2 separate regions of the Homo sapiens genome follow, and region 2 is linked to region 1. Evidence: fine-mapped expression QTL. Tissue or cell type: whole blood. Region 1 holds a variant in brackets; the other region holds the start of a gene. All regions are shown on one strand. Distances are between the middles of the regions.

The links. PIP is the estimated chance that this variant, and not a neighbour inherited with it, causes the effect.
Region 2: it holds the start of TMEM106B, and the variant in region 1 is fine-mapped to the expression of TMEM106B in whole blood (INTERVAL, PIP above 0.99).

Annotation. Positions count from the first base shown.
Region 1 is chr7:12,256,168-12,261,556 of GRCh38, forward strand. No RefSeq gene overlaps it. Among named protein-coding and RNA genes, the nearest start is that of TMEM106B, 48 kb to the left of the region's middle. The variant C/A (reference allele first, on the strand shown) is at 2,518.
Region 2 is chr7:12,208,979-12,214,367 of GRCh38, forward strand. It overlaps TMEM106B (transmembrane protein 106B), which reads left to right and starts at 2,316. Exons shown (of 8, transcript NM_001134232.2): 1 at 2,316-2,447. RefSeq lists enhancers at 1,715-1,864, 1,998-2,516, 2,075-2,124, 2,517-3,033 and a silencer at 2,305-2,614.

The sequences.
Region 1 (5,389 bases):
AACAAAGCAGCTATATGACTAACAAATCAGCTGCCCTTCGTGTGATGGCTTCTTTATGTGTTAGTCATCTATTTGGGACTCTCTTATGATTCTAATAGCACATTTTCTCATGAAGATAATGTCATGACTTCCTTGGATGGAAACTTCTAGTTGTCTCACAACATCTATTCTCCTTTTCTTTCTTAGAACCCTGTGTTTTAGGTGGGCCTATTGCCAATCAAAGATTACCTTTAGTAGCTCATCTTGTGGCTAGATATGGCATATGATTAAATCTAGGTCAATAATATGCAGGCGGAAGCATAATATGAGACTCATGAGTAGTGATGAAAGAAAAAGGGCCTGCTCTTATGTCAATCATCTTCTCTGTTGCCTCGAACCCAGACTTAATGATGGGATCTCTAACAGGTTTTTCAGACTATGAAGTAATTATAAACTTGGAAACAACACTGAAAGTGATGAAGCACATGATAGAATTCCCAGTCTTTGTGACACAGTGAAGCCTCTCTACTGGTTTTAGATTTCTTAGCTTCAGACATTTTTTAAGAAAGAGAAACTTCTATCACATTTAAGCAAATATTATGTTTGACATTTCTGTTATATGCAGCTGAATCTGACAGAATCCTAAATTTTCTTTCAAAGAAGATTAATAATTTTTAAAATACACATGTGCTCAATATATATCTGATACTGGCAGCATGTTAAAGAGGAGGAAGTGATCAGCTTATTCTAATGTAGTTGATGGTATCAAGTATAATGAATACTGAGAACCAACCACTGGATCTAGTAATGTGAAGATCATTGCTTGCTTTGAAAAGAACAGTTTTTAATAACTATTGACGAAAAAAGGAGACATGAAAGGAGCCAAAACACATTTGAAGTAGGTTTAACAGAGAATGGGAAGAAAGGATTTGCAGAAGAGGATCTACACAAGTCATTTAAATAATTTTGTTGCAAAAGTGATAAATAAAAGGAGAAAGCAACAGAGGAAATGGGATTAGAAGGTATTTTAAAAGAAAAAATAAAAGCATTGTTGCATGACCGTAGGTATGATCAAGGAAGAGAAGGAAATATTGCTAACGCAGAGCCTAGACCAACTGGGAGGGATGTGATATAGAGCCCAGAGGAGCAATCACTTCAAATGGGAACATGGATGGCTCATTTATAGGCCCAAGTGGGAAGGCAAAAGTTGTGAGTGGGAATGGTGGTAAGTGAGTACAAGTCGTGGTGGAAGACTATGCCACTTATGTATTGCTACAGTTTTTAAGAAATATAGGAAGCAAGGCCATTGGCTAAGAGTGATGATAGAGGAGATTTGGAGGTGTGAGAAGAGAGTCTTTTAAGGGGATGCTTCCCAAACTTAAATACACTATGCAGAAGAATCTCCTAGTATCTTGATAAAACTCAGGTTCGTATTCAGTAGGTCTAGGATGGGGTCTGAGATCTGTATTTCTCAGAATATCTAGGTAATATCAATAGTGTTGGCCCATGGGCTACACATGGAGTAGCAAAGTTCTATGAGAAATGAGAAAGTTGAGTGAATCAGGAAAGTACTGAGTGCGTAACAGCATTAAACATCTACTGGAGTTCATTGCTGTTAACTGAAAGTGAAACTAATCAGAATATTTGTGTGTTTTGTTCCAACTACTCTGGGCTTAAATGAGGCCAAATGTGGCTGGAAGTGAAAGTGAAAATGATGAAGGAAGAGAGATATGAGTCAAGGGTGTGTGCACTGGAGAGGTTATAATTGGTAAATTTAAGCTGGGTTAGGAGGGAGAAGTGTTACAGAGTGAATATATCCTGCCGCAACTCATTTGTTGAAGCTCTAACCCCCAGTGCAATGGAATTTAGAGGTAAGGCCTAAGGGAGATAATTAGAGCTAGATGGGGTCATGTAAGTGGGTCCCTCATGATGAGATTAGTGGCCTTATAAATAGAGTATGAGAGAGACCTCTCCTCTCTTTACCCAAAAAAAAAAAAAAAACAAAAAAAAAAAAAAAAAATATCAGTGCACCCAGAAAAGATCTTTGCACTGAGGAAAGATCACATGAGGACACAGCAAGAAGGCAGCTGCCTGCAATCCAAGAGACAGCTGTCACCAAAACCTGAATTGGCTGGCACTCTTGATCTTGGACTTCCCAGCCACTGGGACCATGAGAAAATACATTTCTGTTATTTAAGCCACCACACTTCGTTATGGCAGCTTGAGCAGACTAGTAACGAAGGAGACGGAACAACAAGAAGGTAAGGGTCAGTAAAAACAGATTCGTGAAAAAGGTGATGTTGAAATTTTTGTGATGAGGAGACTAGATAATGAGATTATAGTTGGGGAGGATACCAGGTACTGACAATGTCAAGGTCTAGGATGTGACCATGAGACTGAGTGGTTGAATTAGGGTGGAAGACAAGCTTTGGGGAAGAGGGGAGTTCAAGAAACAGAGGCGCCCACATTTAAAAGGACTATTCATGTTCTCATCAAAACCTGAAATAAAGAAGAGAATGACAGTGAGTCAGGGGCTAA[C/A]AGTTATAGTGACTGATGTAACTGATGATACTTTCAAAGATGCAAGTTTCAAAGAGAAGAGGTAATAATGTGCTAGAAATGACAACAGTAGATACCTTTTGCTGAATGCCTTCTAATACAAGTTAAGCACTCTGTAGACATTGTGTCTGTTCATTCACAAATAACATCACCATTCACACCATTCATCACCATTCATAAATAAAGAATCTGAAGTTCAGAGAGGTTAATTAACTTTCCTAAGGTCACACAACTAGTAAGTGGATGTACTATGGTTTCAGAACCAATCAGTTTGAATCTAAAGGCCCCATGATGGATAAGCTGCTTATTTTAAAGTTTTTTTTCCTTAATAGTTTTTACATATCCAGAAGCAAAAGCAAGAAAACATTTTTCAACAGTTTCATCTCCTCAAAAATAAACAGAAACTAGAGCTAGAGCTAAAAGCCTATTTCTTTCTTCTTGTTATTCAAACCACACTCACTTCATACTACCTCATACACTTCAGTCTGTGATATGATACATAGTAGGTCTTCCAGACTTTAAAGTTTAATGTTCCACCTTTGTGATTTTTGTCATTTCTACTTACTTCCTAAACCCAAATTCTACCTGATTTAGCTTTCTCCTAGGGAATGATATCTATCATACCACAGTTTAGTGGGGAAATAATATTATTTTAAAATGCAGTGAAATATATAACTAGTAAAGTATACTTGTGTACAGAGAAAAATCAAGTTCTATCTCACTGGTAGCAAGCATATCAAATTTGGGGAAATTCAGGGATGGAGGCTATGGCATCGGGCTAGAAGTCAAAAGGCTAGAGTTCCGGACTAGCTCTTCCACTTATGGAGCTGTGCACTTGCAAAATATGCAGACTTTCAAAGCCTCTGGTCTCTGGAATGGATTTAGCACAATCTTGGCACATTGTATATTTTTCAATAAATATTAGCAAATATATCAATAATTTTCATGTCACCCACTGGTTACTTATAATCCCTCAAATATTTTGCCTCTTCTTTGTATCTCTGGAAGGAGATGAAATAGCCTTTCAACTACAGGTTTTCTAAAAGCTGGGTGTGCACTGTTTCTGCTATGCTACAAGAAGGTGAAACCATATAACTCAAAAGAAAGAGACAATCCTAAGAAAAATGAGTTAATTTCATAAACCTGAGTTGTAATTCTCAGATGCAGAATATTAAAAAGCCAACACTTTCTGTAAGAGCTTTCAGGACTCCAGGGGAAGCTTGATCTGTCTAATAAACTATAATGATAATAACCAAGCATACCTCACAGGGGTACTAAGCTTTAATGACTCAATACTCGTGGAACCTTTTGAGCACCTCCAATGTTATGTAAGCATAAATGAATAAGTAGGGACATTATATACCATTGTTATTTCTGCATTAAATTTATCTTGATAATTTCTTACAATATCTTATAAGGCAGGCACTGTATGAGACTAATACATGAACAAAGATATGAAAGAAATATAATATATAGTAGTGCTTTCCAATGAAATAATTATACTCTTATATTAGTGAAAGAGAATGGGGTCATTAATTGTACCTCTAAAAAGTCATTCCTCGATTGTAAAGAAGGCAAATGAGAATCTGGAATAGACACTTAAGATATAAATGTCTATAAAGAGTTTGAAAAAACACTTGCTATTTTTTTTTCCTATGGAAGAGACATCTAAGTTTTTAGATGCATTTTTTACACTGAAGAAATTTTAATGATTCTTTCACTGTTTAAGTTATAACTTCATAAAAATTTCATACATTTTTATATATCTTTCATCTTGCCTTTCTATCCTCTCCTCCATAGCATCTCTGTGCTATGATAGTACTTTAATGTCCTAGTTTAACAATAAATCCTCGCAACCCTATATATGTTTGTCATATTTTCCAAAACACACAACTGTAATTGTTATACTGTCCTGAATTTCAACTGAGGTAGCTAAGCATAGGATACAATGACACAAGCAATCTCTTCAACAAACTTTGGTGTAATACCTGGATCTCCATCAATGAAAGAGTCATTTTTGTCAGAAAATATCAACCTTTAAAATGGAAAATCCCCTGAAAGAATTCTACTGAGGAGACTGCTCTTCTCACCCTTGCCTTTTTTCTTCTACCTAGCTGACATCATTTTCCTCAAGACAAAGGGAGTTTGTAAGGGTGAGAGGAGAGAAAAAATAATCAGTCATCTCTTCATGAGGAGAGTAATTCTGGGTGTGACAATTCTGTACCAAGGTTTGAGCAGATTTCACTTCCTGAGACAGGACAGGGGATGTTGGGAGGTGGGAAGACATCAATACTAAATCCACATGCTTCCCATTCTTCCTAGGAGCAGACAAGATTGGCAATAAGCAGCAGAGTCACATGCCTCCAGTACCAAGATCATATTTTCCATTTACTGAATATTATTCTCAGTATTCTGGGTCAAGGTCCAGAACTTTCATGCACAGTTAATTGTATTTTACGTGTCAAACACCCTAAATTTTGTCCCTCCGGTAGCATTGTTATCAATAGAACTCAGACCTGGACCAGAAGGGGCTGTGCCTCAGCAGCTGCTAAAGCTGCCTTTCACCACATACTCCCCACAGGGCCAAGGACATGTGGCCACTCAGAGCCTGTGCTCCACCTTGTAGACCATGACATGGGTACCTGGGACTCTGGATGGCTGTTCCAAAAGCCCCAAGCCCACTTCCCAGCTCTGTGGGGCTCTTTCCTGAAGTATCTCTTTCTGCTGAGTTGCCGGCAGGGTGTGTCCAGGGTGAACCACAATGGTGTCAAGAAACAGCCGTGTGTTCTCATTGTTCAATTCCCACCTATGAGTGAGAACATGCAGTGTTTGGTTTTTTGTCCTTGTGAGTTTG
Region 2 (5,389 bases), 47 kb before region 1:
TCAAACTTATCCCAGACTGTTAAAATTACTGGCCTTTATATCTGATAGCACCTAGACCACTACTGAACTCGGAACTCAAGAAATCACTGTTAATCAAATAATTGGAAGCTTTTCAGAAAATTTTCCTTTCAAAATGTGCTTCAATGAAAAATAAGGCATAGGAACAAATGTACCAAACATTCAATATCTGTCTTTAAAGTACTTCCTTGTTATATGGATGATAAATTTGTAATCATAATATCTAATATTTACTGATTGCTCTGCAGGTATCAGCTCCCATCCATAACCCTTTGAGACAGACATTATTACTATCTTCATTTTGCAGATAATAAAAATTAGGTATAAAGAAGGCTAAGTATTTTGCCCACTCTTACAGAGATTTTGTATATCTCTGTCAGGCTGGGCTCATTTTCAGGCCATATGGCTCCCAAGGCTGTGTTCCCAACCCTGCTACTGAACTGCTTCTTACAGCAACATTCTCCCAGGAAGACTTATTCCTATGTGAATTCCAGGAATTTGGATAAGGAACTGTGCTATATGGCCAGCACGTTTTAAGTTAAATGATGAGGTTGAGAAAATACTAAATACTCCCTTAAGAATTAAAGAAAAAAGTAACTTTTTCACTTAAGAATAATATATATTACATTATAGAACCATTTGCCTATTTAACAATAATAAAGAAAAAACATCCATGCTCTCAAACTACAGGCAACTGTTTATATTTTGTATATTTCTTTCCATTTCAAGGCAGATATGTAATATATTTATATCTATATGTTATCTATATGTGAATATAGTTTACATCCTATTACAATACCTCATATCCTATACTTTGCATCCTGATTTTAATTTTATATCACTCCGCGTATAACAGCCTTATAAGATGGTTTTTACTGGCTTTATAAAAACTCAATAGATGGCTATTCCATAATTTTAAAAACTCAGTAATTCCAAGGGGAACATCATATCTCCACAGGTGGACTGTCAATAATTTTGAGAAAAATTTTCCCCCATGATTCTGATTTGTTTTAACCAACCTATTAATTTTGAAATTTCAAACAGTGTTAATGGAAGACACCCTGACCCTTCCCTTTGGAAAATATGGGCTAAATAAAAGCGGTTGAAAAATAATGATTTTATCAATGTCCCTTGTTGGACATTCAGTTTATTTAAATGGATACACCTCATACCCAAATCTTTTTAGAGTTCTCATTAGGTTTAGGATACTTCTGAAAGGGTGGAATTGCTGGACCAAACGATGTGAACATTTTAATAGTCTTGATACATACTGACTGTCTGCCAGAAAACTTAGGAGTTTTAAATCTCCGACAACATTGTATGAGAAAGCTCATTATCTCACATATGGATCTACAGTAATCCTCTTAAATTGTATATCGTTCTGACTTGTATTTCCTACTTTTACATAGCTTCATTTCCCAATTCCTGTTAGAATTCCCTGATTCTAACAGGATCACACTGATCCTGTTAGAAGAGAGAAATATATGACTCTCACTTCCTTGCTCCTGTGACTGTAAGAATGCCTACCATTCATTAAACGTTAAACTCTCCGCAGGAATGAGACTAGAGTGCCCTTAATATTATTACCGGCATCTCATTGATCCCTCAAAACGACTCCTTGTCGTTGTTCTTATCTTCTAAGTGAAATGACCTAGACGTTGGGGGAGGGCAGCCCCAACCCACAGCGAAGAGCTTAAGTACTGGGATCCGAGACGGGATTTCACACACCTGTAACTAGCACCAGAGTTAAGGGGTGGGGAGGGGCAGCGTGGGCAAAGCGAAACGAAACCGAGCAAAAACAAAAACTACGGCCTTGCCGCTTGCTGTCTCCTTCTAGTTGGCCAGTTTCTAAATTAAAATAGAGGTAGCTTTGCTGCTGTCAGCGGCGTGTGTACGGACCAGTTTATTCCATTCCTAAGGACCAGACTGTCAGCGACAACTCGCATTGCGTGAGCGAGGAGGCTGCTCAGCTGAAAGCTGAGGCAGATGGTGCACATTTATACCCTTTGCAAAAGGAAATGGTCTGATATGGGAAATAGGAGGAGCGACTGTTCCTAGGTAATTCGTGGCTACAGTGGACACTTTGAAGTCTGGGGGACGCGAAGGTAATGAAACCTGAAGAGCGCACAATCTCACACGATCGACGCCTCTGGGCTCAAACAGGAGGAAGAAGGACGCATGCGTCACGCGCACGCCAGGGGTGTCCCTCCGGGAGCGCTCTGCGCAGGCGCGGACGCAGGTTACAGCAGCGCTTGGCCTCTGCTGATGCCGTCGTTATCCTACCCCTCCCCCGTCCCAGCTCTACGGCGGCCGCGCGCTCCAGGCCGGTCGCTCCACCCCCCGGCTCCCGGGACTGTGGACTCCACGACCCTGTCCTCGGCCCTGTCCGCGCCGAAGCAGCCCGGGACTGCGCAGCGCCCCGCGTGCCGGTGAGCGACCCCGGACGTGCAGTCCCCAGGTCCCCTTCCGGAGCGAGGCTGAGCGGCTGCGCCGCGGCTTGAGCCGGGCCTGACAAGGAGGGGAGGCCGCTGGGGTGCTGGGCCAGCCGCAGGTACGGCGGCGGTCAGGGCTGGTGATCGAGTTGCTGTGTCGCCTCTAATGAGGCCCAGCCAGGGAACACTCGGCTTCGGCCCAAGCCCTACCTCTGGGTTGCCTCTAGGCCCTCACACCTTGAGCGCCAGGTGGCCCTCTTCCTTTTGCTGTTGATGAATGTTCTTGCCGTGGTGCCGGGATCTTATTTTGCAGCTTTACAGAGTAGGCTTTGTGCTAGGTGTTGTTTATGGAGCTTTTCAAAGGCGCTTGTTTCCTTAGTTCTCAAGCCCTTTTAGAACTAAAACCAGTGTCTACACAGAAGATCAGGAGCCATTTAAATTGGAGTGCTGTGATATATTTTTTCTCTCCAAACTGAGTCTGATATCCATGTTGACTTTCAGTAAACTAAGGAACCGCTATAATAAATAACACTGAGCCCACAGAGGTTGCAGAAGAGGGTCTAGCACCCCTTTTTTAAACCATTGAGTCTCCCAAGAATAAAAGTGGTTACACTTGTCAGTTCTCTAAGGAAAATCTAGTAGAGAAGGCAAGGGATTCCCAGTTTCTCACAGAGTCTGGCACTTGTCCAAACACCTACCCTAAAGCAGAATCGATCATGGCAGCTATTAGATTAGGACAGAAAACAGGCTCAAACGGAGAGCCACTTGAGTCTGCCTTTCTGTGTCTTTTTTCTCAACGCGCTCCAGTTAAGATGCAGCTTACAGCCTGGCTGTGTTGACTGAGATCCCAGAAAGAGTGCCCTTAAGGCCTTGCTGATAAGGCCCAATGATCCCAATTCATCTAGTGTTCCGCATAGACCCCAAGGTTACAGTGTGTGGGGACAGTGATGTTAAGTCTTCCCTATCCTACCTGTGGCTGACAGGTGTTGATTAAGACAATGATTTTTTAGAAGTCATAAATCATTTGTATTTTTGATGTGGGCAGTGATTTTTATAAATACATAGTTTTTTTTTTTTGAAAGAGTGAAAATCTCATTTTACATTTGTTTGCATACCATTTGTATAGTTTTTTAAATTCTGTTTATTTGAGTGACAGCAACAAGTGGATGGCATGCGAATTTTATTTATTTTTTTATCTTTGTATTTATTTTGTGTATATTCATGGAGTACAAGTGCCATTTGCTACATTGATACACAACATCCTGGTGAAGTCAGAGCCCTTAGTGCATCCAGCACTGGAGCAACACACATTGTACCCACCAAGCAGGCTCCTATCAGGCATGCCAGTTCTAGAAAGTAAAATTTTCTTCATACTCTAGGATGAACTGACTTACTTGGAATGTCTGTTTTGTTTAATCAAATAAGTGAGAATTTTTGAAAGAAATACTATCTGTCTGAATGTATGTAATCTATTTTTAGGAACCGCTAAAAGACATATCAAATTTAGAAGGAGTATAATTATGTTATTTTTCAGTTTTACTTTTTCACTTTATTTTTTCTCAGGATATAAGCAGGAAAATACCAGCAGGGTGTATTATATGACTGTTAAGTTCTTTTCAGCTTTAAAAGGGTATGACCTTAAGTATAAAGTTACTTCATTATCTACCTGCAGAAGTTATTTTTGTGTAGGCACTAGTACTAATTATTTATTTCTACTTAGATTTTTACATTTGTATTGTTATTTTGATACTCTTATCCTAAAATTTTTGAAGTTAGTGTTCTAAATTTTGCTGCTTTGTATTGGTAACTTATATTTAATATTTTGGAACATTGGCTTCATAATTTTAACTGTCAACTGTTGAATGAAAAAAAAACTGTGATTTTGGAATTTTGGGGCTTTTTATTGTTGTTGCGAGTGTTTAAATGTTTAAAGCAAGAAATTTAAGGATGGAAAAGAGTGGTGATTGTATTTATCACAAAGGTGCGTGAATTTTCAGAGGCTGAAACGTACTACTTTGAAGTTACTTGGTGATATACATCAAATACCTAGTTATCGTCTACCCAAAGCAATTTTTGCCTTTAGTGCTAACTAGTTAAAAGGTAGAATGTATTTTTATTTTATTTTAAGAAAAATGAAACCTGCATGTTTCTTTTCAGAGAACCTGCAGGTGTAGACTTTTGTCAAATGTTAATGTTTGAAAGCCCATTCTCATCATAAGCATGATAGGACATCATTTCACATTATTTGTTTAAAAAAACACTTCTGGACTCTAGTAAATGGCTCCTTTGTTTCAGACATTATTTTGATTGGATATAATCCTAATCCAAAAGGTATAATCCAAAAGGTAGTTTGAACATTCTCTTAATGTTTGTTCTGTAAACCAAAAATAAAATTCTGAGCCCCCCAACTAAGTGGAACCCGCTTCTCTGTCAAGGGCATTCCAAAGTAAACCTAAAAAGGTAGTTCAGGCCATGATGAAAAGGTGGGTGGAGGGGATTGAACATGCCCCGTTGTACCTTCCTCTCTTTGGAATTCAGGCACAACTGACCAGCATCAATTAAAACAGAGATTTGAAGACTAACAAGAGTCTCTTTGTAGCAATAAGATATCAAATCCCAACCTGACTCTAATATAGAATCACTCGACAGATAGCAGGCCCTGAGAGAAATTGAAATATCTTACCCCAAAATATATTTCTTTGAAATGGCCTTGCAAAGCTGTCTCTCGTGGGGAAGATCCACATTCTGTACAGAATCCCCTTTCCTTTCCAGATCTTTTCCTAATTCAGCAGCGATTTAACCAAGAGCCTGGAATATTTTAAGGAGTAATAAGAGACATTTACAAACTATTCTCTCTGAAGCCTGCTACCTGGAGGCATCATCTAGATAATCAGAACCTTGGCTTCCACATCCTCCTCCCTTGTCTTAACTACAAACAT